4 separate regions of the Homo sapiens genome follow, and regions 1, 2 and 4 are each linked to region 3. The links come from fine-mapping of genetic effects on gene expression. A gene starts in region 3. Each other region holds a variant in brackets. All regions are shown on one strand. Distances are from middle to middle. Region 1 overlaps SNX27 (sorting nexin 27). Region 2 overlaps SNX27 (sorting nexin 27). Region 3 holds the start of SNX27 (sorting nexin 27). Region 4 overlaps SNX27 (sorting nexin 27).

Evidence for each region. PIP is the estimated chance that this variant, and not a neighbour inherited with it, causes the effect. A credible set is the group of variants that fine-mapping cannot tell apart.
Region 1: its variant is the best candidate, but not a certain one, in a credible set for the expression of SNX27 in whole blood (INTERVAL, PIP 0.80).
Region 2: its variant is the best candidate, but not a certain one, in a credible set for the expression of SNX27 in coronary artery (GTEx, PIP 0.69).
Region 4: its variant is the best candidate, but not a certain one, in a credible set for the expression of SNX27 in transverse colon (GTEx, PIP 0.57).

What each region holds. Positions count from the first base shown.
Region 1 is chr1:151,643,971-151,651,970 of GRCh38, reverse strand. All of the region lies in intron 2 of SNX27 (sorting nexin 27), which reads right to left. Among named protein-coding and RNA genes, the nearest start is that of SNX27, 36 kb to the right of the region's middle. The variant A/C (reference allele first, on the strand shown) is at 4,373.
Region 2 is chr1:151,692,619-151,700,831 of GRCh38, reverse strand. SNX27 (sorting nexin 27) reads right to left here. Exons shown (of 12, transcript NM_001330723.2): 10 at 7,793-7,921; 11 at 7,349-7,408; 12 at 1,752-6,462. The coding sequence ends at 6,415. It overlaps CELF3 (CUGBP Elav-like family member 3), which reads left to right. Exons shown (of 13, transcript NM_007185.7): 13 at 1-774. Among named protein-coding and RNA genes, the nearest start is that of CELF3, 20 kb to the left of the region's middle. The variant G/T (reference allele first, on the strand shown) is at 3,753.
Region 3 is chr1:151,608,332-151,616,533 of GRCh38, reverse strand. It overlaps SNX27 (sorting nexin 27), which reads right to left and starts at 4,484. Exons shown (of 12, transcript NM_001330723.2): 1 at 4,022-4,484. The coding sequence starts at 4,332. LOC124904420 (a long non-coding RNA gene) reads left to right here and starts at 3,166. Exons shown (of 2, transcript XR_007066622.1): 1 at 3,166-3,343; 2 at 4,135-6,017. RefSeq lists a silencer at 4,129-4,568 and an enhancer at 4,609-4,708.
Region 4 is chr1:151,683,023-151,691,022 of GRCh38, reverse strand. It overlaps SNX27 (sorting nexin 27), which reads right to left. Exons shown (of 12, transcript NM_001330723.2): 8 at 7,578-7,667. Among named protein-coding and RNA genes, the nearest start is that of CELF3, 30 kb to the left of the region's middle. The variant T/C (reference allele first, on the strand shown) is at 4,428.

The DNA.
Region 1 (8,000 bases), 36 kb before region 3:
GCCTCGGCCTCCCCAGGTGCCGGGATTGCAGACGGAGTCTCGTTCACTCAGTGCTCAATGGTGCCCAGGCTGGAGTGCAGTGGCGTGATCTCGGCTCGCTACAACCTCCACCTCCCAGCCGCCTGCCTTGGCCTCCCAAAGTGCCGAGATTGCAGCCTCTGCCCGGCCGCCACCCCGTCTGGGAAGTGAGGAGCGTCTCTGCCTGGCCGCCCATCATCTGGGATGTGAGGAGCCCCTCTGCCTGGCTGCCCAGTCTGGAAAGTGAGGAGCATCTCCGCCCAGCCGCCATCCCATCTAGGAAGTGAGGAGCATCTCTGCCCGGCCACCCATCGTCTGAGATGTGGGGAGCGCCTCTGCCCCGCCGCCCCGTCTGGGATGTGAGGAGCACCTCTGCCTGGCCGCGACCCCGTCTGGGAGGTGAGGAGCATCTCTGCCCGGCCGCCCCGTCTGAGAAGTGAGGAGACCCTCTGCCCGGCAACCGCCTCGTCTGAGAAGTGAGGAGCCCCTCTGCCCGGCAGCCGCCCCATCTGGGAAGTGAGGAGCGTCTCCGCCCGGCAGCCACCCCGTCCGGGAGGGAGGTGGGGGGGGTCAGCCCCCCGCCAGGCCAGCCGCCCCATCCGGGAGGGAGGTGGGGGGGGTCAGCCCCCCGCCCCGCCAGCCGCCCCATCTGGGAGGGAGGTAGGGGGGTCAGCCTCCCGCCAGGCCAGCCGCCCCGTCTGGGAGGGAGGTCGGGGGGTCAGCCCCCCGCCCGGCCAGCCGCCCCGCCCGGGAGGTGAGGGGCGCCTCTGCCCAGCCGCCCCTACTGGGAAGTGAGGAGCCCCTCTGCCCGGCCACCACCCCGTCTGGGAGGTGTGCCCAACAGCTCATTGAGAACGGGCCAGGATGACAATGGCGGCTTTGTGGAATAGAAAGGCGGGAAAGGTGGGGAAAAGATTGAGAAATCGGATGGTTGCCGTGTCTGTGTAGAAAGAAGTAGACATGGGAGACTTTTCATTTGGTTCTGTACTAAGAAAACTTCTTCTGCCTTGGGATCCTGTTGATCTGTGACCTTACTCCCAACCCTGTGCTCTCTGAAACATGTGCTGTGTCCACTCAGGGTTAAATGGATTAAGGGCGGTGCAAGATGTGCTTTGTTAAACAGATGCTTGAAGGCAGCATGCTCGTTAAGAGTCATCACCACTCCCTAATCTCAAGTACCCAGGGACACAAACACTGCGGAAGGCCGCAGGGTCCTCTGCCTAGGAAAACCAGAGACCTTTGTTCACTTGTTTATCTGCTGACCTTCCCTCCACTATTGTCCTATGACCCTGCCAAATCCCCCCTGTGAGAAACACCCAAGAATTATCAATAAAAAATAAATAAATTTTAAAAAAAAAGAGAAAAATTAGAGCTAAAATAGAATAAAACACCCAAAAGCTCTAGGACAATATCAAACAGTGTAAAACACAGGTAACTAGAACCTCCAGAAAGGCAAGAGAAAAAGAATGGGCTGAAGAAATGTCTGAAAACATACTGGCTGATAGTTTTCCAAAAATAATAAAAGATATCAAACCACATATTCCTCAAGCAGGACAAATAAGAAACAAACACCTAGACATGTAAAAATGAAACTCTGAAAACTAAAGATAAGGAGAAAATGCTGCAGGCCAGGTGCAGTGGTTCAGGCCTGTAATCTCAGTGCTTTGGGAGTCTGAGGAAGGAGGATTGCTGAGGCTGAGAGTGTGAGAATAGCCTGGGGAACATAGCAAGACCCCATCTCTACTAAAAATTTTTAAAATTAGGTGGCCAGGTGCGGTGGCCGACACCTGTAATCCCAACATCTTGAGAGGCTGAAGTGGGCAGATCACTTGAGGCCAGAAGTCCAAGGCCAGCCTGACCAACATGGTAAAACCCTGTCTCCAGTAAAAATACAAAAATTAGCCGGGTGTGGTGATGCACACCTGTAGTCCCAGCTACTTGGGAGGCTGAGGCAGGAGAATTGCTTGACCCTGGGAGGTGGAGGTTGCAGCGAGCCAAGATGGTGCCACTGAACTCCAGCCTGGGAGACACAGTGAGACCCCATCTCAAAAAAATAAAATAATAAAATAAAATATAAAAGTTAGACAGGTACAGTGGCACATTCCTGTAGTTCCAGCTACTCGGAAGGCTGAGTCAGGAGGATCACTTGAGCCCAGGAGGTCAAGGCTGCAGTGGGCTATTATTGCACCATTGCACTCCAGCCTGGATGACTGAGTGAGACCCTGTCTCTGTTTTTTAAAAAGAGAGTAAACTTTGAAGGTAGCCAGAGAGGGTTAAAATAATCCATAGAAAAGACCAAAAAATAAAACAAGCAGGCTTCTCATCAGAAACTATGAAAACCAGAAGACTGGAGTGATTTTGTTTTAAATTGAGACAGGGTTTAGCTCTGTCTCCCAGGTTGGAGTGGAGTGGTATGACCACAGCTCACTGCAGCCTCAACCTTCTGGGTTGAAGTGATCCTCCTGCCTCAGCCTCCCAAGTAAGTGGGACTACCAGCATTGTGTCACCATGCCCAGCTATTTTTTCATTTTTTGTAGAGACAGAGTCTCAGTATGTTGCCCAGGGTGATCTCAAGCTCCTGGCCTCAAGCAATCTTGCTGCCTCAGCCTCCCAAAGTGCTGGGATTACAATGGAGTGATTGTTTTTTTCTTTTGGTACTTTAAAAAAATAAATAAATAAAAATTTAAAAAATCGGCCAGACACAGTGGCTCACGTCTGTAATCTCAGCACTTTGGGAGGCAAAGGCGGGTGGATCACGAGGTCAGGAGTTCAAGACCAGCCTGGCCAACATGGTGAAACCCTGTCTCTACTAAAAATACAAAAATTAGCTGGGCGTGGTGGCGGGCGCCTATAATCCCAGCTACTCGGGAGGCTGAGGCAGAGAATTGCTTGAACCCAGGAGGCAGAGGCTGTAGTGAGCCGAGATCGTACCACTGAACTCCAGCCTGGGCAACAGAGCAAGACTCTGTCTCAAAAATAAATAAATAAATAAAAAGAAAAAGAAAAGAAAAAAACAATCCACCAAGAATTCTATACCCTGAAAAAATCTTTCGAATATAAAGGTGAAATGAAGACTTTTTCACATCAACAAAAGCTAAGAGAATTCATTGCCAACAGACCTGCACTATTAATGCAAGAAATATTAATGCAAGTTCTTCAAGCAGAGGGAATCTAATGCCAGACAGAAACTAGATTTACACAAAGGAATAAAGTGCATCAGAAATGGTAAATATGGGCTGGGCATGGTGGCTCACGCCTGTAATCCCAGCACTTTGGGAGGCCAAGGTGGGCAGATCACCTGAGGTCAGGAGTTCATGACCAGCTTGGACAACATGGAGAAACCCTGTCTCTACTAAAAATACAAAATTAGCCAGGCGTGGTGGTTCATGCCTGTAATCCCAGCTGCTCGGGAGGCTGAGGCAGAAGAATTGCTTGAATCTGGGAGGTGGAGGTTGCAGTGAGCCAAGATCGCGCTATTGCACTCCAGCCTGGGCAAAAAGAGCAAAACTCCGTCTCAAAAAAAAGAAAGAAAGAAAGAAATGGTAAATATGTGATCAAATATAAAATAACTCTTTTCTCATGTTTAATCTCTTTAACGCCAGGCGTGGTGGCTCATGCCTGTAATCCCAGCACACTTTGGGTGGCCAAGGCTGGCGGATCACTTGAGCTCAGGAGTTCAAGACCAGCCTGGGCAACATGATGAAACCCCATCTCTACCAAAAACACAAAAAATGAGCTGGGCGTGGTGGTGCGCACCTGTGGTCACAGCTACTCAGGAGGTTGAGGTGGGAGATCACTTGAGCCTGGGAGGCAGAGGTTGCAGGGTGCCAAGATTGCACTACTGCATTCCAGCCTGGGTGACAGAGTGAGACTCCACCTCAAAAAACAAAAACAAAAAACAAAAAACAAAAAAACCCCGACTCTTTAAAAGGCAATTGTTTTTTTGTTGTTTTTTTTTTTAACTTCTTAAATGCACAAATTTATTTTTTCTCAACAAACACACATCTTAATGCCTTTACAACTTTTATCTCCCCAAATATACCTTGCTTTTCTTTATACATGCTGTATACAGAGTTGTTTTCCTTATATTTAGTAGTTATTGCTTTTTTGTGCCCTTTTGGGTCCTGAATTTACACATCAGGCATAGATCTTGGGACAGGAAAGAGCTGTGAAGCAAATTCCTGGAAGATCAAACCCCTTCCAGCATGGCCAGGTAGCACAGCTGAGCCAGGGATGATGGGGCCATATTGGGTTTGGCTCTGCCTTGCAGCTGGCAGTCCAAACACTGAGGACATGCATATTTCTGCAGGCCTCACTATGGTCATCTGTCCAAACCCCAGAATCCAGAGACTCA[A/C]AACGAAATACAGTCATACAGTAAGATATGTGCAAGGTTTCAGGGAGCCCAGCAGCCAGACCTTACAGCTTTAGCTCAATTTAGACAAATCAAGCAAGTTTAAGAAATATTCCAGAAGTAGCAGTTTTATGACCTTAAAACATGTAATAGGCTGGGCACGGTGGCCCATGCCTGTAATCCCAGCACTTTGGGAGGCCAAGGTGGGCAGATCACTTGAGGTCAGGAGTTCGAGACCAGCCTGGCCAACATGGTGAAATCCTGTTTCTACTACAAATACAAAAATTAGCCAAGTATGGTGGCTTACACGTGTAGTTTAGCTATTCGGAAGGCTGAGGCAGGAGAATCACTTGAACCTGGGAGACGGAAGTTGTGGTGAGCTGAGATCTCACCACTGCACTCCAGCCTGGGCAATGAGAGCAAAACTCCAGCTCAAAAACAAAAAACAAATTAAAAAAAAAAAAAAAAAGTAATAGAGATGATGTAAACCTGTCTGTCAGTAGACCCAGGCAAAAACAATTATATTTAACTGACAATCCTGAAGCCTAAAAGGCAATTGTTTAAAGCAAAGATAACAATGTATCATTAAGTTTATAACACATATAGAAGTCAATGTATGACAACAATAGCACAAAGGATGGCGGGGGGAAATATACTCTTGTAAGTGTCTTAAATTATATATATAGTGTGTGTTTGTTTGTGTGTGTGTGTGTGTGTGTCTGTGTCCAGCCTGGGCAACAGAGAGAAACCTTGACACACGCACACACACAGAAGGTATTATGCTAAGTATCTTCTATAACTACAGTGGGGTAAAGTTAGAAATTGGTAACAGAGGGAAAGCTAGAAAACTCACAAATTTGTAGGAATTAACATCTGACGGGGGGACAAAATGGCCAATACAAATATATATTATATATTTATATATTATAAAATTAGATATATTAGATATACTTACCTATATACAGTGTTATACTATATATAATATATATGTACTATATATTATGTCTATACAACTACAAATTCAAATATATAATTTGAAGGTAAATGTTCATAAATTATAGATATATACTGTAAACCAAGAAAAAAAACAAATTATACCTAATAAAACAATAGTAGAGATAAAATAGAATCATTTAAAAATACTCTATCCATCCAAAAGAAGGCAGGAAATGAGGAAAAAAATAAATAATGATACAACATAGATAGCAAAGAACAAGATAGTAGATTTAGCCTAACTATAGCAATAATTATACTAAAGGTAAGTAGTCTACACATTCCAAATAAAAACATTGCCAGACTGGATAAAAAAGCAAGACCCAGCTCTAAGCTTTCTATGAGAAACCCAGTTTAATTATAAATGTATAAATAGGTTAAATGGAAAATATAGCAACGAAAACAATAACCGAAAGAAAGGTGACATGGCTACTAGTGGCTATATGTTAGTGGCTCATATGTTATATGAGAGAAAGACTTCAGAACAAAGAATATTACCAGGGATAAAGACAGATAGATATATTACAGATAGAGACTTATATAAAGAGATAAATAATGTTAAAGGGATCAATTCATCAAGATATAATATTCATTATAAATAAAGAAAAACCTGACAGAACTGAAAACTCCATTTCAAGTAGTGCATACACTTCCTGTAGACCAACCCTTCTGCTGTAACCACTATAAATTCTGGACGAAATACAAAAACAATTATCTGAGGAGTCTGAATTACACACTAAAAGCAGGCAGACTGTGGAGGGGACTCAAAACATGGAGCAATGATGCACAGGGTGGGGTACACTCCTGCATTAAGAGGGCTTTGCCCTGCTTGTGGGCATAAGTTACAAAATAGCACAATTTAAGTAACTAAAACTCAGAAAGTGACGTCTTTCTGACTCAAACATATAGGGAAAAGATTCTAGGTAACCATGGCTGCTACCAGAGTGAGTGGAGAATCCAAGACAAGAGAAAACCAGAGAAGGTGATCCTTAATTCTAAGAATAAACACCACATGTATCTCAGACTAATCCCTTCTTGGATGTATACAGACTCAAAGTAGCACAGCAAAGGCTGAAAGAATTAAACTGAGATTTGAAGTTTAACCCACAGAAGGCGACACAGCTTACAGCTTATTGCCAGCTAAAACAAAAACATCGATACTCCTCAGAGGAATATTACAGAACCCAGAGTCTCCACAATGTAACATTCATAAATATGCAAGATACAATCCAAAATGACTCAATATACAAAGAACCAGAAGAATATGACCCATTCTCAAGGGAAAAGACATTTAACAGAAACCAATCCCAAAATGACACAAATGTTCAGACACATAAGGAACAGACCAATGAAACAGAGTAAAAAGTTCAGAAATAGAACCACACATAGTCAATTGATTTTCCACAATGATGCCAAGATATTTCAATGAGGAAAGAACTTTCTTTTCAACACAGGTTGCTGTGAAACAACTGGATATCCATATAAAAACAAAATCAAAAACAAAACCTTGACCCTGGTCAAGGGCTCACACCTGTAATCCCAACACTTTGGGAGGCCGAGGCGGGTGGATTACCTGAGGTCAGGAGTTTGAGACCAGCCTGGCCAACATGGCAAAACCTCATCTCTACTAAAAATACAAAAATTAGCCAGGTGTGGTAGCGCATGCCTGTAATCCCAGCTACTCAGGAGGGCTGAGGCAGGAGAATCGCTTGAACCCGGGAGGCAGAGGCTGCAGTGGGCCAATATTGCGCCACTGCACTCCAGCCTAGCTGACACTCAAAAACAAACAAACAAAAAAACCTTGACCTTTATATCACAATATACTAAATAAATAAATAAATAAATCCCTCAAAATGGATCACAGACCTAAACGTAAGAGTAAAAACTATGGTACAGCCACTTCGGAAAACAGTTTGGCAGTTCCTCAAAAGGTTAAACCTAAAGAGTTACCATATGACCCAGCAGTTCCATTCCTAGGTATATATCCAAGAAAAATGAAAACACATATCTACACAAAAACGTGTACACAAATGCTCATAACAGCATTATTCATAATAGTCAAAAGTGGAAAGAACCCAGATGTCCATCAATTGAAGAATGGATAAATAAAAGTGGTATATCCATATAATGGAATGTTAAAATGAAGTACTGATGCATGCTACAACTTGAATAAGCCTCAAAAATATTATGCTGAGTGAAAGAAGCCAGTTACAAAAAAAACCATGATTCCATTTCTATGAAATGTCCAGAATACGCAAATCTATAAGACAGAGGATAGATTAGTGCTTTCCTAGAATTGGAGGGGATGGGAGGTTTGGAAAATGATGGCTACAAGGAATGAGATTCTTTTTGAGGTGATGAAAATGTTACAAATTTGTTTTATGCTTCAAAAGTGCTAACTTTGAGTCATAAGACATGTAAGAAGTTGAAATCAAGGTCACATCCTAAAAGTAGAGCAGACTGGATGTTGAGACCTTTTGGGAATTACCTAAAACCTTGGGAACTTGAGAAAAGGAATGAAATTACTAATTGTACTTTTATTTATCTATTTTTTTTTTGAGACGAAGTCTCACTTTGTTGCCCAAACTAGAGTGCAGTGGTGTGATCTGGGCTCACTGCAACCTCTGTGAACACACTA
Region 2 (8,213 bases), 84 kb before region 3:
AAAGTCCTGACTCATATATTTCTATTTTCTAGTCACATAGACAGAAAACCTCAAGAGTTTTTAGTACTTTCGCATAAACTCAATGGTATTAAATCATTTAAGATTTCACTTCCACAAACTTTCTCATATCATTTCCCTCTTTTCAATTATCACTGCCTACACTTATTAACTGAGTAATCATAGCAATTTCCTAATTGGTCCTTCTGTCTATGTTCTGAAGCATCAATCTTTCTAAACTGCAGCTAATAAAAAACAAAACTTCTCTGCTGCTGTTTTTTGTTGTTTTTCATAGAACACCTCAGCCTGGCATTCAAGGCTCTTCGAAGCCTTACTTTCCACTTCATTCCTACACATACCCAAATAGAACTATTCATTGTTCTCTAGGCAAGTTTGGTCCCTTTTCTCCCATGTCTTTTCATTCCCAGTTACTACAGTGTCTGGCACATAACGGCTCAATAAATGTTTGTTGAATGCCTTCTTGTTGAAATCCTTCTCACACTAAAACAGTTCACCTTAAACACTACTTTCTTCATGAAAATCTTAACGGCCCTCATCCACAGGTCTTTCTCCTTCCTTTTCTAGTCCTTATGGCACTTAAACCTTTCACTGCTGTGTATCATGGCCATGCGTAAGTGTCTCATTCTTCTGTGAGCCTGTAAGCTGGCAGAAATGTTTCTTTCTTTGCTTTTGTGTCTGTTGCAGTATCTCAAACAATCTCCCCACCCCACCCCCAACAGCAGATACCTAATAAATGTTTGACTTTAACCACTGTAACTCTAATTCTGGAATTCCACTTTGTTCTTCTTTATGGATTCTTTGCTTAGGAAAGGTAACACTTCCCCCCTCCATTAGCACAGTAGTGTTTCTTAGATTTTAAATATCCAAAGCTAATGGGTGGGTGAATGAATGAGCCCCTGAACAATGTCTCTTCCCAAACTGCCAAACAAAGTGCCACAATGGTCCTTGGTCTTATGGTCATCAGTTAGGGAACAAAAGCGTGTGATCGGAAGTTGTAAAAATAATAATAAATGAAGCTTTATAAAAAAATTAAAATGTCTCACCCACCACAAATGCTGAGCTTTTCAGACCAGAGTCAGCTCATAAACAAATGTGCAGAGGAACAGATACCCTTGAGAGAAGGTAATTAGGCCCCAGCCCCTCAGATGCCTCTGTAAAAGCAAAAGGCTGTAGGACCACCCTTCTTCTCAGGAGTGTGGGAGCAGGGGAGAGTAAGGCCACCCACAGTGCCTAGTTTTGTGCTGGACAGTTCAATAGTCATAATGTGTTCCTTTCAGTCCAGATCCCAAAGAGAAAAACTTTCCCGATTTACCTGAAAAAGTATATACCTGTTGCTGGGGGTGGAGAGGAGGGTCCATTGCTAAGATCTGTACCAAAGGCTCTGCCAGGCTCTATCTGCATGGCAGAGAAAGGAATCCTGTGATTCTTCAAAGGATTTTTGTGCAAGCTTGCAGATGGGAGGGGTAAGCTCAATCACCTCTGAGATCTGAAGGAGAAGAAGGAATTTTCAAAGGAGCCACTGGGAAGAGAACTGCAAACCAAGGGCCTCCTGTGGCTTCTTTCCTCACCCTTCTCCATTCCCTGCACTCAAAAAACTGCCACACTAGTTACCTGGGAAAACTGGTTAGATGTTTCTTCTTTTCAGACTGACCACTCTGACTCAAATCTCAAAGGTCCCAGTTCACTTCTTCCCACACAACCCAAAGGATTTGTAGTCTAGGAAACCAAAGAAGTGTTTGATCAATAAATCAATTTATTTAAAAGAATATGTTACAATTAATTACACTAAGTGACATTACCAAACAATTTTAGAGTGGTTAGCTCTAGAACAAGGAATGAAAGAAACAATGTTAGCCATTATTGTGTCTGTGTATTTTCTCTTCACATTTCTTAAATCACAAATAAAAAATACAAGATACTGCAGTGAAAATACAATTAGAGTTTCTCTGAAATAAATTAAATGTGCATGGCCTGGGAAAAACTGAAGCCCAGCTCACTGGCTTAAAAGGGGGTCATGATATAAAATTAATGTCCAAGTTTAGCAGGCGGCCAAGTGCCCCCACCCCGTATCACTCCCCTCTTTGATTCTATTCCTTACCACAGCCCTGACCTTCCCACATACCCTAGATTATTGCTGAGGAGTGAGCTGATGCTGTCCTGGCAGCAAAGAGGCCTGGCGTGATGTGCTCAGGTTTAGGGGAACAGGAAGTCAAGAGGTGGACCTGGAAGATGGGGAGCTAGAGAAGCATACCCACTATCTCTCTTCTCCCTCCCTCTCTCTGAGTGTTCTATCACATCATCCTCCCAAAGGAAGCTACTGTGACACAATGAAGCTGGTGAAGAAACAGCAGTATGCTGGGGTCAACAGATCAAACAGCTTCTACTGCTGAATGAATCTAGCCAAACAGTATGATGGCGAGAAGGGAGAGCACAGCAGTCCCTCCTGGTCTGGAAAATTCAGGTCAACTAGGATGCAGTCCCCTTCAAGAAAACTACCTCCTAGGAGCCCAGCCCAGAAGTTGGCAAATTCTGAGATAGGAGAGAGTTTCATCTCCTGTCAGTGCCCTATTTTGCTGCTCCAAGTGCTGGGTTTGGAGCTACAGGAAGGGATAACCCAAAGCTACTGGCCTGGGTAACTAAAGGATGAAACTAAATGGGCCAGGCATGAGGATGTTGGAATATTTATCTAATTCCCCCCTGAGAGCTCAGTCCAGGCCTAGGAGCTGCCCTGAGCATGCACATATCTGTACCTGTGTTTAGGCCTAGGGTAAGGACGGGGTGGAAAAATGGAGAATAGAATAAACATATAAAGAGCAGAGGGCCCAAAGCATGGCCCAAGGGAACCTTTCTGCAGGGACAGGTTTCTCAGGGTCTACATTTTCTCCTGGGCCATAAAAAGCTCTGAGCTTCTACCCCTGAGGATAGAAACCAAGTGTGGAGGAAGGCCAGTGAGAGACCAGGAGGATCCTGCTGGTTCTGCTGGGATGAAGCTGGGGGCACTGGGAGACCCCCTCTTCCCAGGGACAAATTGCAAAAGAAGTCTGGGTAGAAGCCTCCCTGGGCAGAAGCTGGGACTAAGAAGAACAGTAGGGATTACAGAAAGGAAGTGCAGAGGAAGGGGAGAGAGAAGAGTCACAACACTGCTTCATGCAAAGAAGGGCTTGATCCTATGGGATCCACGCAGCCACAGGGAACCCGCCTCCATCACCCAAGGCCGTGCATGGGTGGAAGAGAAGAAGGCGCTGTCCTTTGGGGTGCCCTCCTTCCCCACCTCCTTGCTGCAGCTGGGTGCGTTGTTACTGGGACACTTTCAAAAGGGCTGTTCCTAAATAAATTCTGCCAACAGGCCAACTACCTATAGGGCCCTCACCTAATCTCCAAAGCACCAAGTGAATGCTATGCCAGAAAGGGAACATAACACCATCTACCCATTCTAAGGGGCCTCCAAATCCCTATGTCTCATGTCTGAAGGTCAGCATTCAAGCTGTCGCATGGAATCCCAGCTCTGTTCACTACTGTCCCACTCTGAGCGAGTAGGGGCAAATTGCTATTTTTACAGTTTGAACAAAGCTGGTGCCAAGTCTCTTTAGCATCTAGGAGTGGGAAATCAACATGTCTTCTTTTCAGGGTCCTTTGGCTCATTTTAAATTCATTTAAGTCAAAAGAAGTTAGTTCTGTGTCAAAGTCTTCAAATTAGGGATCCCTCTGCAACTTTACACATTCAGCATTCTCAC[G/T]TTTTGTACTCTGTGATTTCACCTAGATTTGGAGAAGGTGAGGGAGGAAAGGCTGTCCTCTTTGATCCCATACCATGCAGGGGCAAATGGCTGCCAGCATAACAAAATAAGAAGGAAAGAAAGAAAAGTGGGCCAGGCGCAGTGGCTCACTCCTGTAATCCTAGCACTTTGGGAGGCCGAGGTGGGCAGATTACTTGAGGTCAGGAGTTCAAAACCAACCTGGCCATCATGGTGAAACCCCGCCCTACCAAAAATACAAAAAATTAGTGGGGCGTGGTGGTGTATGCCTGTAATCCCAGCTACTTGGGAGGCTGAGGCAGGAGAATCGCTTGAACCCAAGAGGCAGAGGGTGCAGTGAGCCGAGATCGTGCCACTGCACTCCAACCTGGGCGACAGAGCAAGACTCTGGGAAAAAAAAAAAAAAAAAACAGAAAAAAAGGAAGGAAGGAAGGGGAAAGAAAAGTGGCCTCACAATGATTTGCAACAACAAATTACAAAAAAGAGATGAAAGAAGGAAAGCAAAAGAAAGAAAGAGAAAGAAAGAAAGAAAGAAAGAACGAAAGAACGAAAGAACGAAAGAAAGAAAGAAAGAAAGAAAGAAAGAAAGAAAGAAAGAAAAAGTGGCCTCACAATGATTTGCAAAAACAAATTACAAAAAAGAGACTTTCCAACCACCCCAACACTGCTTAGTAGAATTGACTACAACCAATTATGACTGTCTCCCAGTTAGAGCAAAAGATGCCATCCTAGGAAGGTTTTTGTTTAGAAAGGGGAGAAGGGAAAAAGAAAAGGCTCAAAGATGTGTTTTAGTTGCATCTGAGCCTGACTTGGTGCTTCTTATGCATTATCTACAGAGCTTAGGGGCTGGGAATATTGTCCTACCCCAATTAGCCCTGGCTTCTGATCCTGGGATGCAGCTCTTAAGTCTCAAAGGGTCTAGCTGCAAGATCAGATGAGGAGCTCTTTAACGGACAGAAAGCAGAAAGGTTTTCGTTCAGTCTCCTTTCAATTAAAACTTGGGAGATCCAATCTAATCAACCATATTCCTACTACTCCTTCCTAGGTTCTCAGCTGGCTTGGATGGGGCTATCGTTTGGTTGGCACAGACCACTGACCCACTGCAAGTTTCCCCAAGGCCTTGAAGATACTATTGGATCCCTTCCCATCACTGCTGTTTAAGGAAGTCACAGAGAATGCCGTAGTTATGGGTGGTTATTGGTCAGGAATGGAGGAGGTAAAACCTCATGTACATAGGGCATTTCTTGCTTTCTTTCCTCTATGTAAGTCCAACCTGTGTGCCTAAGGTATCAGCTTAACTCTGGTCCTGAGTACTATCCCTGCTGCAAAAAAGGCAGGGAAGGACACAGTGGCTCATGCCTGTAATCCCAGCACTTTGGGAGGCTGAGACAAGAGGATCACCTGAGGCCAGGAGTTTGAGACCAGCCTGGGCAACATAGTGAGACCCTGTCTCTACAAAAAAATTTTAAGAAGAATTAGCCAGGTGTGGTGGTGCACACCTGTAGTCCCAGCTACTCAGGAGGGTGAGGCGGAAGGATCACCTGAGCCCAGAATTCAAGGTAACAGTGAGCTATGTTCATGCCACCACATTCCAGTCTGGGCGACAGAGTAAGACCCTGTCTCAGAAAAAAAAAAAAAAAAAAAAAAAAAAGGCAAGGAAAACAGGAAATTACTACCATGAAGTGTTTCAGGTTCAGGTTCCCATGGCATCAACCTCCTGAGCCAGGGTCGGTTGAGGGAAAGCATACCGAGGCTCTAGGAAAGCAGGAAGGAGGTGCAGAATGTGGCTAGAAAGCCAGGAGTGAGAGAAATAGATGGATCAAAAAAATTGTCACAGAATCAAGAGCCCATACCAGGACTTCAGGCTCTCCCTGCAGAACTACAGCCTGTTAACCTTGAGAAACACACCTCTTTCTCCTCCCCAGCACCCTCTTGGAAGATAAAGAAACTATACTCCTTGTTCCTAGACTCTATGGCAACCCATGAGCCGGAATCTATACTCAATACAAAAAAAGGGGCAAAAATCCAAGCAGGTTGTAAACTTTTCAAGTCCTTCATGAGGAGAGGTATTTTTCCCTGTAAAATGCTTTTTTTTCCTTTTTAAAGTTTGTTTCAAAAGAAAGAGAGCACGAGGGAGGTCATGGATTCTAGTGAAAGGTGTGTAAAAACACAAGCTAAAAAAGGTACTGCCATCAATATGAAATTTAAAAAGAAATATATATATGTATATACGTGCAGCTAATTTGTGTATATATAATTTTTACATACATACATATATATGTCTGAACAGTGCAAATGGATGAAGTTCATAGTTCCAGTTTTAAAAATATAGTACAAGGAGAGGCTGTTGGTATGAGGCCCAGGTGAAAGGACAAAGATACCTTTGGCAAGTTGGTTGGGCTTATTTCTTTTCCTGCCTTAACTCAGTTGACTTCTGGTGCTGACCGATCTGCTGTTCACTACCACCTCAATTCCAGAGACATGAAATTCAGAGGGGGTTATTAATAATATTTAGTTTAGGGCTTTTGAATATAACGACTTTAACTTTTTCTCTTCTTTTTTGTTAATGGTTACTCTGTCTGAAATGGGACATGAAAGGAGTAAGAGGATGGGGGTGAAGGGAAGGGAAGGGGATAAGGAAAGGCTAGGTGGCCACATCTCTCTGCTGTGACCTCGCCATCTGGAAAATGTTCTGAAAGGAAAAAAAAAAAGAGTTATTGGGAAGGCACATCTCCTCTTATCTGGAGACAACTCCACAAACAGAAGCTAAAAAGGTATGCCTGGATGACTCAATCTGATTGGCCACATCTTTCTTGATATAACTTCTCATCTAGAATCATAGCCTTTTAGAGCCGGAAGGGACCTTGGATATTAATTACGTGGTTCAGTCTTCCTGTTTCACAGAAGAGAAAACTGAAAGCTAGGGAGGCTGATTTACCCAAAATTACACAGAGGGAAAAAAAAGCCAGGAGAAAACCCAGATAAAATTCCCAGAGCCCAATGTTCTTTCTACTGTACTAAAATATAAATTTTCATGTTCTTGACTTGACCTCCTGATTCTTTCAAAGATTTTCTTTGAGAATAAGTAACTAATTATTCAGAATCTTCCAAATTCTGTTCCAGCACTGGCACATACAGACAGCAGTAAAGCAACAGCAAACACCTTCCCTCACACAAACATTCTTGGTTCGCCTAGAAAGACTGCCAGGACTCATCCAGTCAAGACGGCTACAACTGAGGACAGCTTCCCCTGTGGGTCAGGAACAACATGGAGGGTGATCTGATTTAAAAAACTGGCAGAGGAGGGTCCATGAAGTCATGAGAGATGGAAGAGCCTGTAGCCAATGTCCACCCTCTAGACAAGGGAAGAAGCAGGGCTTTTTTGCACAGCCCGTTCACCATCCAGAGGCCAACCTTGCTGGAAGAATGTCCTGGCTCACATGAGATAATCAGTCTCTAACTAATATTCCTAGAAAGACAGAGATGGAGGTGAGGGTCCCAGGTATTTGGCCACAGGCCTATAAATTTTAAAGAAACAAAAAGATGAAAAGGTCAATTCAAGGACTGTTCAGAATTACCTCTTTTCTCCACTTGAGCTCGCAGAACACCCTCTCGAAGCACTCATGCATGTAATTGAACTGAAAAAAAAGGTGGTGACACTCACTAACTTCTCAAGAGCAGGCATCTCAGGACTGTGCCTTTGAACTCCTGTCCCCAGTCATCCCATCTTCCAAACTCAGTCTAGAGAAAAACCCTGACAAGTACCATAAAACCCAGGCCTGGTTCATCCACTATTCTCTAGCTCCTTCTAGTGGTAACTACGAGCCAAGTGGGATAGGAAATTGCCAATTCCAGTCAGGCCTAAAGCAAAAACAGGATGAATCTGGGGGCTCCAGGATTCAAACAGGTTCGGATCTCAAGACAACTACTAGCTCTATCTCTCTCTCCATTTATGCATTTAGCTGAAAAAAAAAACAAAAAAACAAACTAAGTCCCAGTTACTTTCCCCAAATTGCACTCACATATGGCGTGAAGATTTTAACCCATCGGGGCTTCTTCTCTCCTCGTGCATATTCGAAACAGAAGGCCATCCCTTCTTCATCTGTGTCCCATCGCTGCATCTCATCCCATTCAAATGCAATTACCTGGTTCTGGACAACCAAGACAAGGGAGTAAGGTACAGTCTGTGTTTCAGAGTGCTGGGGAACTGAGGTAGGGGGTTCTGAACCAGGAGACAGAAGAGAAATGAATGGATGTCTGCATCGCTTCAGAGAAAGGACTGTGATAGAAGAATACAAATCAGTGGAAGCAGCCAATGAAGTTGAGGATCAGTGTGGATTCCATGCCTGTTTATTTGCCCCAGTCAAAATACAGTTTTGATTTCATTTCCCCCTAAAATGGAATTAAAACGTCACAAGCAAGTGAGCATCAAAGTATCTCCAG
Region 3 (8,202 bases):
ACAAATTGATATACACAGTTTTATTTTATCTTATGACTTTAATGAGGGAAAGTTGATGAGTCTATTATCTGGTGGCTATCAAAGAGGAAAGCATATATACTGACTAGCATAAATATATCATGATTTTGAATGCTTGCAAGCCAATCTTAGTGGTCCATGCTTAAACTAATCCTTCAAAAATACAGACAGTTTTATATCCATATCCACCACACACTAAAACCTTCCAGCAGCGTCTCTCGAGAAATCAATCAAGAGTCCTTGGAACTACTTTAACCTTAAGAAAATTAACCTGAAGTCAAATGTTACTTCACATACTATATAATTAGTGCAAAGACATATTTATTTTGGTTCTGTTTGTTGAAAGCATTCTTTACTCATTAGCCTCCAGGTACATACACATCAAAGGGAAAACACTCAGTATATGTTACACTGGGAAAAATTACAAGGTGGAAACCAGCTTTGCTAGTCAAAAAAACTTTCCATCTGCAGTAAAATTTAGAGCCCAGAGGGCTTGTTCATACTGCAGTACCAAGCCCTGTTAGAATCTAGACAGTTTTGAAAGGAGAAAAGGCAAACTGAACCATATGGGCTCCAATTTAGTTTCAGGACTAAAGATTAGGACAGAGCCTTGGTAAGCCGACTTTAAAAGAAACACAAAGAAACTGAAGCTCTTACTTGTGTCCAAGTTTGTATGCCCTTAAATTTCAAAGTTACTCTGTTCTTTCACACCACTGTCAGTTGTCCAAACAACTGAAAAATACGAAAATTGTTACAAAAACAATTTGTAAACACAATAGAAGAATCTAAAATAGGGAAAAGTCTTAAATAGCAATTATCAAGGTCCATACATTCACCTATGACTTGATACAAACTATATCCACACAATGATAATCCACCTATCCCTAATTCTGACCCCACCTGGCTCTTCAGCAACATGCAAAGCTTTCCTGGGACAACAGAGGTAAACTTTAAGAACTTGGAGGACAGACAAAAGCTCTAAGGAGTATTGCCTAAAAAATGCTTTAGGAAAATTAGCATCAACCTAACCAAGATCGAGACAAGTAGCGGGCACAGATATCCCTCAAGAACCACATCTATTTGGTTGCTGATTTCCCCTCTCACTTGAAACCCTAAAGAGAAGGCGCAGACTATCGAAGAAAGGAAGAAAAAAAAAAAGAAAAGAGAAAGACACTGTATAGTTGGGGTCTCACAGAATGTACCACTAGCTTGGCTTTGGGCTGTAATTATCATTACTTCCCCTATAGTACCAAAGAAGGTTCAGAGAATTTGGAAATCAAAATACAGATAGTTGGAAGAGTGAGAAACCAATGCCAGGAAGATTTCTGATTATCACAACCTTCCAGAGAGGTCTTCTAGGCAGAGTATTCTTTTCCCCTGCCCACTAAAAGTGACAAAGTTCTCTACTTACCACAAAGGATGTGCCAAAAAGTAATGTTTTTTCTCTAGAAGGCAAAGATTTCCCAGCTTCCTAGTCTGGAACCTGAGCCTAAGGCAAGTCCTTCTACCTTTCCTAGGGGATTATCTGAGGTCTCCTTTACAGTTTATACCTAGGCTCTTGGGCAGAAGCCACAATAAAGGCAAGAAGCCACTAACTATGTATGTTGGGATGTGTGCGTGTATCTGCAAAGATAGATCATATTAACTATAGTCTCCTACAGAATTATTCTTTTTGGTTTAGTTCCTTTAGATCCTGTGAAGAGTAAATAATGTAGAACTTCATCATAAATTTATAATTATAAATGCTTTAGTTTTAAATTTAAAAATAAGAAGCTGAGTCCAAAATTAACTTCCAAAGGGAAAGGAAAGTGACAATTCTGAGACCTTCTATTGGAAGAAAACATCAGCCACAAATTTTGAGTTATCTAGAAAGAAAATAATTAGGTGCCCAAGTATAAGAAATCTGAAAGTCATTATTGTAATCCCAGCACTTTGGGAGGCCGAGGCGGGCGGATCACCTGAGGTCAGGAGTTTCAGACCAGCCTGGCCAACATGGTGAAACCCGTCTCTACTAAAAATACAAAATTAGCTGGTCATGATGACACATGCCTGTAATCCCAGCTACTCAGGAGGCTGAGGCAGGAGAATCGCTTGAACCCGGGAGGCGGAGGTTGCAGTGAGCCGAGATCGCGCCACTGCACTCCAGCCTGGGTGACGATCAAAACTCCATCTCAAGGAAAAAAAAAGAATATATTGTCAGACAATACTAGGAATACTAGGAAACAGTATGTAGGACATTAATGAAACAAGAAAGCATCTATTTACAGAAAGGACAGAGGAAAGGTATACTGTCTCCAAACACTGGCCTAGGTGAGCAACTATTTCTTTTTTTTTTTTTCAATCAACTCTCCCAGGTTAAAACCAACCATTTCTTGAGGTGGAAGAGGTGAGGAAACAGAATGAGTGGACACCATGGAGTTAAGAATGTCAAGGATAAGGGTAGATGGCACGAGATGAGTAAGAAGGAATGGATTTCTCTATAAGGCAGATTTTCAAAAAACTATCCCTTTTGCAAACCTACTGTTTTACAAGAGGCAACAGAAGGTTGCGGAAATTACAATTAAAATTTATAAAAAATGAGAACGATTTCAAGTGGGCAAATCGAAATATGGAGGGAGAGAGTAAAAGTGTAAAAAAGGAATGCACAACATAGATTCAGTAAGCAGAAACACAGCACTGAAGACTGCTGAGGAGAACGGAGACAACGCGAGCACACACCACCTGCAAGTCAACCGGCAATCACTATCCGAATTTCAATACGAAGTACAAAAAGGCAAATGTAACACCTAGATTAGGGTAATGGAGGCGGTGTGCACAGAGATTGCAAGACAAGGCAGCATCCCGCAAGAGCATGGAGGGATGTGGTGGGGGAGGCGTATGAAGGGGGAGGGACTGCAGCAGGGGAGAGAGGGTGGGCTGCAGCAGCAGAAGGCGCCTTAAAAAACAGAAGAAAGGAAAAGCAGCCTAGGGGAGGGAAAGACTAGGACAAAGTCAAGTGTGGGATCACAGGAGGATAGAGTAGAAGAGGCAGCAGAGACGGGCATGCCCTAAAAAAGCAAAGCGGTCAAAGACCCAAAAAGGGCTTGAAGTAGTTTTGAAGGAGGAGGAGTTACAAGGGGTCTACCATAAACCTGACTAGGAGGAGGCATGAGTATAGAGCAGGAGTGAAGGCAGGAGGCCAGGGAAGGGATGCTCTCAGAGGGGTGTGCTGATGGAGACGCTAGATTCCAAATTAGGGTGTGATACGGGGCCAACCGAGAAGAGAAACTACGGTGTCAAATCCCACGCCCCCCACCCCAAAGGCATGCAAGGGTCAGAAAGCAAGGTAAACTCTTGGAGTAGAAATACAAAAAGGAGGGGAGGAAAGGGGCACACGGTGGGATGGAAAAATTTAGGGGCAGCGTAACCATGAGGAGAGGGTAACTAAGGAAAGAAAAAGGAGACGAGCGGGGAGGGATGGTGTTTCCGGAGGAAAAGTAGGAGCAGACCAGAGGTCCTGCCTACTTGGTCTGGAGGGCAGAAGGGGCAGTCCACGGGGGCGGAGGGGAGTGGTGGAGAACGAAACTGCGATGCTGAAGATGAGAACTTGGGGGGGACACGGTACTGGCTGGATCAGAAAACGAAACGCCGTCAGTAAGGAGCAGATGAGGTTCCTTCTGAGCAAGACGAGGGGGAGTGAGGAGCAGAATGCAGCACGCCAAACGGGAAGGCAAAGGGGCGGAGAAGAGCCCAGAGTAATCGGGGCACAGGGAGGAGCACTGGGGGCGCAAGGGCATCAGCTGGAGACGACGGGGTGGGAGACCGGCGTCGCAGAAGCCCCGGGGCGGGTGGTGGGAGGGCAGCCCACAAGGAGGGGCCCGGCTGCGGAGGCCTGAGGGGCGGGGGTCCGGAGGCCGGCTCGGAGCTCGGGGGAGGTGCGGCCTGGGGGTGACAAGGGTAGCGAGGAGTGCAGGGGCAGGAGGGGCGCGGGGAGGATGGGGCGGCGGGTAGCCCCGATACTCACACCTCCAGGATGCGGTCCCCCTTGCGCACCCCGGCCCGATCGGCCGCCCCCCCGGGCAGCACGGCGCTCACATGCTGCAGCGGCGCGTACAGCTCCCCGTTGATGCTCCGCAGTTGCCCGCCCTCGCTCACTTGGCCCCGCACGTTGAAGCCGTAGCCGGACTCGGACTTGACGATGCGCACGACCCGCGGGCCGCCGCCTCCCCCGCCGCCGTTCCCGGCGCAGTGGAGCCCAGACCCCCCGCCGCCGCCGCCACCTCCGTTCCTGTGAGGGGCTGAGGGATGAATCCCTTCCCCGTCCTCGTCCGCCATCTTGCGAGCAGGCGAGCCGTACCCCCGCCCCCTACGCCTCCAAGGCCTCCCGGCGCGTGCTCGCCCTGCCTGGCAGCCGGACGACCCCCGACGCGCGCGCCCGATCCGCCGGCCGCGGGACCGACTCGGCCACCGAGCTGCTGGCGCGGGGTGAAGAGGAGGCAGGGGGCGGGCGAAAAGCGGACAATCGGGCACCGTGGGGCCTCCTGGGAGATGTAGTTTATGGGTGGCGGGGGCGGGGAGCGGTCTGGGCCTGGGCCTGAGCCGAGGTTATAAGACGCAGTTCGGAAGCAAGGCCTGCCGGGAGTTGTAGTTTATCTTTCATGCTGGGTTAGGAGTTTGATCTGCTGGGTGGGGAGAGTATAACCCAGCACCCAGCGTGGTAAAATGATTCAGTTCTTGATGCGGACCAAGTTTTTCGCCCCCCCCCCTTTCATTTCATAACCTCTAAAAAACAATAATGTTAGAATAACTTAACGTTTGTGATTCAACACAGTCTTAAATTATATCAACTCATTTTTTGGCACAGTAACTTATATGTTGACCAGGGCCCAACAACCTGTGAGGCAACCGGATCACGATTAGCTTCCCTATTTTACGTTATTAGGAAACAACCTTAGAGTGCTCAAAGTCATCCAGCTACTAAGTATCAGGAACTAAGGCCCAGTTATTGTGCAACTTTCTTGTCCTGTATTGCAACTACAGTCATGTGCCACATAAGGACATTTTGGTCTACAATGGACTGCAAACACGAGGGAGGCCCCCTAAGATGATAATGGAGCTGAAAAATGTCTATCACCTAGTGGCACAGTAGCCACCATAAGGTCATAGCACAAGCATTACTCACATGTTTGGAGTGATGCTGGTGTTAACAAACCTGCACTGCCAGTCATGTGAAAGTATAGCACATATGATTATGTACAGTACATAATACTTGATAATGGTAAGAACTATGTTACTAGTTTATGAATTCACTGTAGTTTTTATCACTATTTTAGAGTGTACTCCTTCTACTTTTTTTTTTAAGTTAACTGTAAAGCAGCCTCAGGCAGGTCCTTCAGAAGGTATTCTAGGTATTCTAAGTATTGTGATTTTTTTCCACGTATTCCAAGTATTGTGTTTTTTTGTTTTGTTTTGTTTTTTTGTTTTTTTTTTTTTTAAGATGGAGTTTCGCTCTTATCGCCCAGGCTGGAATGCAATGGCACGATATCGGCTCACCGCAACCTCTGCCTCCCAGGTTCAAGTGATTCTCCTGCCTCAGCCTCCCAAATCCCTTGCGATTAAACGCATGCGCCACCATGCCTGGCTAATTTTTTGGTATTTTTAGTAGAGACAGGGTTTCACCATGTTGGCCAAGCTGGTCTCGAACTCCTGACCTCAGGTGATCCAACCACCTCAGCCTCCCAAAGTGCTGGGATTACAGGTGTGAGCCACTGTGCCTGGCCCCAGTTATTGTTACCATCAGATGACAGCTCTGTGCATGTTATTACCCATGAAGACCTTCCAGTGAGACAAGAGATGGAGGTGGAAGACAGTGAAATTGATGATCCAGATCTGGTGTAGGCATAGGCTATGTTTGTGTTTAAGTCTTAGTTTTTAACCAAAAAAAAAAGTTTAAAACATAAAATTAAAAATTGCCTTAAATAGAAAAAAAGCTTATGGAATAAAGATATAAAGAAAGAAAATATTTTGTACATCTGTACAATGTGTTTGTGTTTTAAGCTAACTGTTATTACAAAAGAGTCCCCCCAAATTTTTAAAGGCTGGGTGTGGTGGCTCATGCCTGTAATACCAGCACTTTGGGAGACCGAGGTGGGAGGATTCCTTGAGCCCAGGAGTTCAAGACCAAACTGGGCAACATAGTGAGACCCCATCTCAACAAAAAATAAAAAATTAGCTGGTGGCTGAGCGAGACTATATCTAAAAAAAAAAAAAAAGCAGCTGGGCATGATGGCACATACCTGTAGTCCCAGCTACTTAGGAGGTTTAGGTGGGAGGATCGCTTCAGCCTAGGAGGTCAAGGCTGCAGAGAGCTGAGATCACACCACTGTACTCCAGCCTGACCATCAGAGTGAGATCCTGTCTCCAAAAAACAAAGATGAGATCTCACAAAATATGGGATGAGGACTCAAAGTCATTATAATTAGAACATAAAAATTAATATGACCTTATTTTACAACCAAGCTAATGAAGAAGGATCTTGACTAGTTACACAATAAAGTTGATATAAGAGTTTTGCTCCAAAATAATAGTGGCATTTGGATTGAATATGAATAATTTGGTTTGAACTGAGCACTGGATGGGGAAAGCAAGGCATCAGAGAAAGGAAAAAGAAGGGAGCCTCCCCTAAAAGAGTTATTTTTTCATTGGTTTATTAGATAAAAATATACTGAATGCCTACTCTGAATTAGATAAAAATATACTGAATGTCCCCGAAAGGCAACAGGACATGGTCAAACTTACAAATACACATATTCCTCAAACTGAAGGCGATTCCACTTCCAGGAGTTCATTCTACTGTTACACTTGCACATGTGTGAAGTGATGTTTTTATGAAGTTAAGTCATTGCAGCATTGTTTGTATTCACAAAAGACTGAAAACAACCTAATGTTTATTTGTTAAATCATAATGTATCCACAATGGAAAATTGAATCAATGTAAACACAGAATAAGGAAGCTCTGTATGCACTTATATGGAATGATCATATCATCAATACTATATATGATTTGGTGAAAACAAAGTGCAGCACAATCTATACAACATGATACTATTTGTATATAAAACGGGAACCATGGGCCAGGCACGGTGGCTCACGCCTGTAATCCCAACACTTTGGGAGGCCGAGGTGGGTGGATCACCTGAGGTCAGGAGTTTGAGACCAGCCTGGCTAACATGGCGAAACCCCGTCTCCACTAAAAATACAAAAATTAGCCGGGTGTGGTGGTGCACACCTGTAGTCCCAGCTACTCGGGAGGCTGAGGCAGAAGAATCACTTGAACCCGGGAGGTGGAGGTTGCAGTGAGCTGAGATTGTGCCACTGCACTCCAGCCTGGGCAACAGAGCAAGACTCTGTCTCAAAAACAAACAAAACAAAACAAATACAAAAATTAGCCGGGCATAATGGCAGGTGCCTGTATTCATCAGAAGGCTGAGGCAGGAGAATCGCTTGAACCTGGGAGGTGGAGGTTGCAGTGAGCCAAGATCACGCCACTGCACTCCAGCCTGGCGACAGAGCAAGACTCCATCTAAAAAGATAATAATAAAATAAAAGGGAACCATATATATTTTTATATCTTTAGAAGTATTCACAAGAAATTGATAACACTGATTGCTGCTGGGGAGGGAGACTGGATAGCTAGGGTGTCAGAGGCGGGGACAGGGGTAGGAGAGAGACTTTTCACTTTATACCTTTATGTAACTTCTGAATTTTCAGTCACATGAGTGTTGCCTATTCAAAAAATAAATTTAAAAATATTTAGAAAGGATCAGGTTGGAAGAAAAGATGATCAGAGCATTAAAATAACAAAAGAAAATAAGACACCATTACTGCTGGTGAGAATTCACAATCTAGCAGGAGAGAAAACAAAAAACCATTGCAATAGAGCATGATGAGAGCTGTGAGGAGAGTCCTGCACAAGCTGCTAGGATTGCACATCGGAGGGACTTCCACGTATCCAGAGGGAGGAGTTAGGGAAGATGACTCACGAAATGGGAGAGCTGAGCTAAGTGATTACAGATGAGAAGAGTTAGCAATTGCGGCAGAGAAGGATAGTGGTGGAAGGGCATTTCTGACAAAGGAAACAGCATATTCAAACACACAGAGATTTGAAAGAACACAGTACAGTGTGAGACCACACAGTTCAGTAGG
Region 4 (8,000 bases), 75 kb before region 3:
GACAGGGGTGGGTGGTATAGAACAGAACTCTTCTGGGGTTATAATAAACAGCAATGCCTGAAACACAGAGGAGTGAGGAAGAGGCCCAGACTACCCTGGGCTTGAATCCTGGCCCCATTACTTCCATTACTTCCTAACTGTGCAACCTTGCGCAAGCTACTTTAAGGCAGGCAAATTACTTAATCCCAGGTGCCTCAGTTTCCTCTTCCATAAATGGGAAATAATAATAACATCTAAACCACAGTGTGATTTGTGAGCATTAAATACAGAGTATTTGGCTGGGCATGGTGGCTCACACTTGTAATCCCAACACTTTGGGAGGCTGAGGTGGGAGGATCACTTGAACCCAGGAGTTAGAGACCAGCCTAGGCAATATAGTGAAACCCCATCTCTATAAAAAAAAAAACAAAAAAAAAATTTGCCGGGCACCTGTAGTCCTAGCTACTTGGGAGGGTGAGGTGGGAGGATTGCTTGAGCCCAGGAGGTCAAGGCTATGATGGAACCACTGCACTCCAGCCTGGCTGAGACTGCACCACTGCAATCTCAAAATAAGTGACCTGTCTCAAAACAAGAAATAAAAATAAAAAAGATATTTAACATAGTACTCAGCCATAATTAGGCATTTAATAAATGACAGCTAAAAAAAAACTTTTAAAGTATCTGGAAATTACTTTTAAAAATCCCTGGGGTGAGCTTCAAGTCAGTGACAGTAAAACAAACAAACACACAAATCTCCTGAGGGGAAAAAAGCATGTGAGTGAGATAGAGGCAACATGAATGGCAGAAAGTCGAAGGCTATCGAAGCTGGGTAATGGATACAAGGGGATTAATTGTATTTTTCTTCCAACTTCTTTATGTATTTAAAAATTTATACAGCTGGGTGTGGTGGCTCATGCCTGTAATCCCAGCACTTTGGGAGGCCAAGGCAGGCAGATCACCTGAGGTCAGGAGTTCGAGACCAGCCTGGCCAACATGGTGAAACCCCATTTTTACTAAAAATACAAAAATTAGCCAGGCATAGTGGCATGCACCTGTAATCCCAGCTACATGAGAGGCTGAGGCAGAAGAATTGCTTGAACCTGGAAGGTGGAGGCTGCAGTGAGCCGGGATTGTGCCACCGCACTCCAGCCTGCCTGGGCAACAGACTGAGACTCCATCTCAAAAAAAAAAAAGTATATATAGATACAATAAAATGTTAAAAGAAAAAGAACACCCTAGCAACCAGGCCTCTGGCACTCAATCCAAGCCATCTTCCTAACATAGTCATCAGAAACTTTACATGCTCGATAAGCAGCAATTCTGCTCCAGGACACTTAACACCTCTGTAAATGCCAGTGGGTGTCGTTGACCCTTGAAACTAGTACTACTCATGTCCTTTAACAAAACAGGATTACATACAGCACATCTGTTGAGAGTTCTCTTCGTTGAGAGGTACCACTACTGTTTTGACAAATATTTCTGCCACAATCTCTAATTGGGACTTTTACTATAATAGATCTTTTAAAAAGAGAGAAGCATGCCGACAAAGGCAGGGATTTGGGAAAAGAGATCAGAAGAAGCGTGGAGCTCTGAGTACCTTAAACTCTCTCTTTGTGACCTTGAGTAAGTTATTCTACCTGGGGTCTTCTCTTCTGCCATCTGGAAATAAAAGACATTGCTGCTATCCTGTCTTCCCTGATGCAGGGAAAAATATATGCACTGGAGCCTGACAAAAATGGGTTCAAATCACATTTTCAAATTCTAGTTCCACTTCTGAGAAGCTACGTCATCTTAGGTAAGAATCTTAATCTCTCAGACTTCACTTCTCTGTAAAGTAAGAATAATACCTGCAGGGTTGTTATAAGGAGAAAATGAGACTTCATATAAAGTGCCTAGACCAGTCAGGCACATAATACATGCCCTGTCCGTCCCCTCTGAATCAAAAGACTAATTTATCCCTCCATATTCAAGAATGTAGTCCTTGAAAGCAAAAGACCTTCAGGGGACTTCTTAATGGCATAAGCTCTAAAAATAACCCAAGTGAAAACTAAGGGCACCTGTGCCCTTGGTGAGCCGATAAAGGTAAAGTCTCATTGGAAGACAAGGTTTTCAGAGAGCTCAGATTGGGCAGTATTTATCAGCATTAAGTGGGCAGTCTCTACATTCTTGGGCTTGCACAAAGCCTCAAAGAAGAAACATTTAAAACTTTACAGGAGAGGATCAGAAAAAACACCCAGGTAGTATCATGCTTACTACCTGGGTGACAAAATAATCTGTACACCAAACTCCCATGACATGCAGTTTATCTATGTAACAAATCTGCACGTGTCCCTAAACCTAAAATGAGTTACAAAAATTTATTTATATAAATCAAAAATTCGTAAAAACAGGTGAATTTTTTTTTTTTTTTTTGAGACAGAGTCTCACTCTGTTGCCCAGGCTGGAGTGCAGTGGCATGATCTCAGCTCACTGCAACCTCCGCCTCCCGGGTTCAAGCAATTCTCCTGCCTCAGCCTCCTGAGTAGCTGGGATTATAGGCGTGCACCCCCACACCCAGCAATTTTTTGTACTTTTAGTAGAGACGGGGTTTCACCATGCTGGCCAGGCTGGTCTCGAACTCCTGACCTCGTGATCTGCCTGCCTTGGCCTCCCAAAGTGCTGGGATTACAGGCGTAAGCCACCGCGCCTCGCTGAATTTTTGCTTTTAAGCATGTTTACATAAGGATATTTAAAAGGGTATTTGGTATTTAAAACACCAAATCATCCTGCCCATTCTCCTTTCAGGGACTTCCCACTTAAAGTTGACAAATACTACCCAACCTGAGTCTCTCTGACCACCCTGTCTCCCAGTGAGACTTTACTCTGTTGTCTCACCAAGGACACAGCTTCCCTTAGTTTTCACTTTAAGTTTTGAGTAACTATGTATCCCGAATTATCTTCCTTTATTCATGTATCATGTAGAAAGTGGCCCATTTAAGCCAGAGAATTGGACAGGTATAGTACAGGATATTTTATAAATGTTCAATATTCAGCAAGACAAATAAATACAGACATAGGGCAGTTTTTTTTTTTGTTTTTCGTTGTTTTTTTTTTTTTTTGAGACAGACTCCGCTCTGTCGCCCAGGCTGGAGTGAGCGGCGCGATCGCGGCTCACTGCAAGCTCCGCCTCCTGGGTTCACGCCATTCTCCTGCCCCAGTCTCCTGAGTAGCTGGGACTACAGGCGCCCGCCACCACGCCCGGCTAATTTTTTGTAGTTTTAGTCGAGACGAGGTTTCACCGTGTTAGCCAGGATGGTTTCGATCTCCTGACCTCATGATCGGCCCGCCTCGGCCTCCCAAAGTGCTGGGATTATAGGCGTGAGCCACCGCGCCAGGCCGACAGTTTTTAAAGCAGAGACTCAGTGTTTAACAGAGCAGAACACTTTAGGTGAATGGGTCAAGGTCCACTCCAGAGAACTCTCTGTTCTCCCAAACAACCTGCTAAGGGTCAAACCAGGTCCAAAATAGAAGTAAGGGACTGAGAGGAACTTCAAGAGCCAACTCTCCCAAAACCAGAATCAGAGTAGTGATTCTGAAGCACCTAACGTTCCAGAATCACCAGTGTGCTTTTTAAAAATAAAGTTCCCTAGGTCCTACCCCCAGAGATTCTGGCTTAGTAAATGTGGGGTGGAGTCTAGAAATCTGCATTTTAAGCAGCTTCAAAAGTGTCTTCCATGTAAGTAGACTGGAGACCACACTTTGAGAAAAACTGACATACATGCTGCCTTGTGTGAAATCAATACAAATTATGTAGAGAAACACAAAAGCTCTTTATTTATCTGTTCAACAAGGGCAAAATCAGGCCACTTCAACATAAGAAAAGCATAATTTACACATGTCTACTGTTTGTGTGAGGAGACAGAAAGGGAGGGAGGGAGGAAGGAAGAGAAGAGAAAACATTGTTTCTTGTATATTATATTCTCAACCATCCAAATTTGAGATTCAGTCTAACTTTGTAAGTAAGTAAAAAACAAAAATGTTTTTGATCACACTGGGTATTATAAACTATGCACAGACGTGAGCTCTCTTCTGTATTTGAAGATTTGGAGGACAGGGGAACTTACACAAAGCTTATTTATCTTCCAAGAATCTTGGTGTATTTTGTCAAGATTCTACTTAATAGCTGATAATCGGAATATCCCCATTTTACAGAAAAGAAACTAAAACTGAGAAGTTCATTGTGTTGCTGCAGTTCTCACAGTGATGTGACAACTACTAATTGTAGTGACCTGGCCTAATCGTAGGCCTGTTCACCACACTTAGTTGCTATGGTTAATGGCATCAGGGCCTATGGGCTCAGAAGGCCCATGTGAGAAGTTTCAATGTATTGACCATGACCTAATATTGGCTAGGCTAATGCCTTTGAACACTGATACTTGAATACATATTATACTCATAAAATTCAAACT[T/C]TGATGAGCCTTTCTTCAAAATCTGACTATCATATCATGTGGCTAGTACACAGAAATATGTTGGCACTAGGTTTTCAAGACAATCTAATTCCACAAATGTTTAAGCATATTTTATACACAATGGCAAAAGACCATGGGGAAACATATCTGTCTATCAACTATACTTGAGTTTTTACCTGGGTGATTACAAAATATAAACAAGTCTAAAAATGACTTCATAATAGATTACTGTGTTTATTAAATTCAGATTTTCTATATTTTGCCACAGCACAATGCAAACCTATGTATTTCTCTCACACCTTGCACTGTGCCTGGCACGTACTTGGTACTCAACAAATATGTTTTGTTGAATACATAGATGGAAAGATAGTGTGTTTGGAATACTATAAATGCAAAGAAACAGTATGTATTCCACACTGGTATTATCAGAAGACCTTATGAAATTATTTTGACTCTATTAACTTTTCAGAAACAAGAAAACTCTGTTGGCTTTAGCAAAGGCAAAGGATTACTGCAGAAGTTGATGGCCTGTTAGTATTTGGCCCTTTTCACCAAAAAGATGCAAATGTATTGGTCAGAATCATGCATTAATATATAGAAGACAATGCCATTATCTTAAAGAACAGGTGGAAGTCGTGTTTTAAAATTCTGTCTCACACATAGCAAAATTCTCCTAACCAAAATTCTGCCAAGATTTAATTACATTTAAAAGATTTTGCATTTTCTATGTCAGCCTGCTGATACGTAGAACATTGGTAAGGTGGCTCCCTGATCTTCGGCAATTTTCTAAGGTATAGAGATTTATTACTTTTCATCACATAAATGATTAAAATAACTAACTTAGCTAGATATAAGATTACAGGCTAAGTTCAATGGCTGACTGGTTTGCATTTTTTGTTGTTGTTGTTGTTGTTGAGACGGAGTCTCACTGTGTTTTCCAGGCTGAAGTGCAGTGTTGCAATCTCGGCTCACTGCAACCTCCGCCTCCCGGGTTCAAGCGATTCTCTGGCCTCAGCCTCCTGAGTAGCAGGGATTACAGGCACATGCTACCACGCCCAGCTACTTTTTGCATTTTTAGTACAGATGGGGTTTCACCATGTTGGCCAGGCTGGTCTCGAACTCCTGGCCTCAGGTGATCCACCCGCCTCAGCCTCCCAAAGTGCTGTGATTACAGGTGTGAGCCACCGTGCCCCGCAGCTGTTTGCATTCTTATTCCAACCCAATTAATGTACATGAATCAATATTCTCTCCTGAAAAGTACACAGAAGGTACAAAAGAATTCAAATGACCTATCAGAATCACTACTAAAGAATGAAAATGATACAGATGGTCACTAACTTACAATGGTTAACTTAATGCTTTTTTGACTTTATGATGGTGTGAAAACAATGTGTGTGCAGTAGACATTGTACTTCAATTTTTTTTTTAACTTTTCTGCTGTCTTTACAAGTACCTCAAATTTTTGTTCAAAACTTTAAATAACTTTAGGCCTGGCACGGTAGCTTACGCCTGTAATTCCAGCACTTTGGGAGGCTGAGGCAAGCGGTTCACTCAAGGTCTGGAGTTCGAGACCAGCCTGGCCAACATGGTGAAACCCCATCTCTACTAAAAATACAAAAATTAGCCAAGCGTGGTGTTGGGTGCCTATAGTCCCAGCTACTCGAGAGGCTGAGGCAGGAGAATCGCTTGAGCCCAGGAGGCGGAGGTTGCAGTGAGCTGAGATCACACCACTGCACTCCAGCCTGGGTGACACAGCAAGACTCAGTCTCAAAAAAAAAACAGTTTAAATAACTTTATTCTAAACTGGGCTTTGTGTTAGATGATTTTGCCTGACTGTAGGGTAATATGTGTTCTGATCACATTTAAGATAGGCTAGGCTAAGCTATAATGTTTGGTAGGTTAGGTGTATTAAATGCATTTTTGATTTAATATTTTCAACTTAAGATGTGTTTATTGGGATGTAACCCCATCGTAAGTTGAGAAGCATGTATAATTGAAAAAACTTCAACTGCATGTGAATCTGCCAAGAGAGAAATTTAAAAATGTTATAATGAGTAGAAATTTTTATGTGTTCTTTACTAATTTTATTTTTGACAATTTCCATCCCTGTATCTATGGCAGATACAAATTGAAAATGAATTTAAAGCCATTTAAGGAATACTCTAGGCAGCCCTGTTCGGCAAAACTTTCAGTGATGATGAAAATGTTCTATACCTGCACAGTCCAATATGCTAGCTATTCACTGTGCACATATGGCTGCTTAGCATTGAAATGTGGCTAGAGCAGCTAGAGAACTGAATTTTAAATTGCATTTAATTTAAATGAATTTAAATTTATATTTAAATACCTACATGAGTCTAGTAGCTATTGAATCAAATAGCACAATTCTAGGATGATATACTAACCAAGAGCACTACGGAGCATAAATGTTTAAGCAACTGCAGAAATGGAAGCTGTAAAAACAAATGATTTTGCTATTGCTAAATCATGACTAAAATAACTCCTAATGTTAAAAAGCTAAATATCAGGTCTTATACAATCTTATCTATATCCTATTGTAATGTTTTACACAACTTTTGTTTTAGCACTTTTTAACCAAAAAATAGTTATTATTAATAATAAAATTATGGGCCAGGCTCAGTGGCTCAGTCCTGTAATCCCAGCACTTTGGGAGGTCGAGGCAGGTGGATCACCTGAGGTCAAGAGTTCGAGACCAGCCTGGCCAACATGGCAAAACCCTGTCTCTACTACAAATACAAAAATTAGCTGGGTGTGGTGGCACATGCCTGTAGTCCCAGCTACTCGGGAAGCTGAGGCAGGAGAATCGCTTGAACCCAGGAGGCAAAGGTTGCAGTGAGCCTAGATCGCGACACTGCACTTCAGCCTGGGCAACAGAGCAAGACTCTGTCCCTCCCCCACCCCACCCCCCAAAATAATAATAAAATTATGTACTAATACACAGTAATTCAAGATCTTTGTGTGTTAAATGGAGAAACACAATGGACTTTGCATCAAGGTCCCTATTCCCCTCCTTTTTTAAAATTAGTTAAGCCACTAACCAGGTTGTAATCCTTTCAAAAATGACTAGGACTATAGGTTTTAAAGGTAGGAAGGGGCATTTTTAAAGGGATTATGGGGACATAAACTTACCATGACCATTTTTCTTTGTTCGTATAGCTTCTGTAATTGATAGGACTTTTCTTCTGCTTTGATGTAACCTTTCTTCACATCATCGACTGCCTATCACCAAAACAGAAGTAGAGCAGAAAGGAGTGTAAAAATCATTATTATGTACATTCTCGATGAAAACAGACACAGACGCATTTTCAGAAAATCTCTTATCCACTTGGACCACCATCATTACCAGTGAACTCTGCCACATGTCCAGGGATATGGTCTGGCTCTGTGCCTCCACTCAAATCTCATCTCAAATTGTAGTCCCCATATGTCGAGGGAGGGACCCGGTGGGAGGTGACTGGATCATGGTCTGGTTTCCCCATGCTGGTCTCATGATAGTGAGGGAGTTCTCACAAGATCTGATGGGGTTTTTTTGTTTGTTTTGAGACAGAGTCT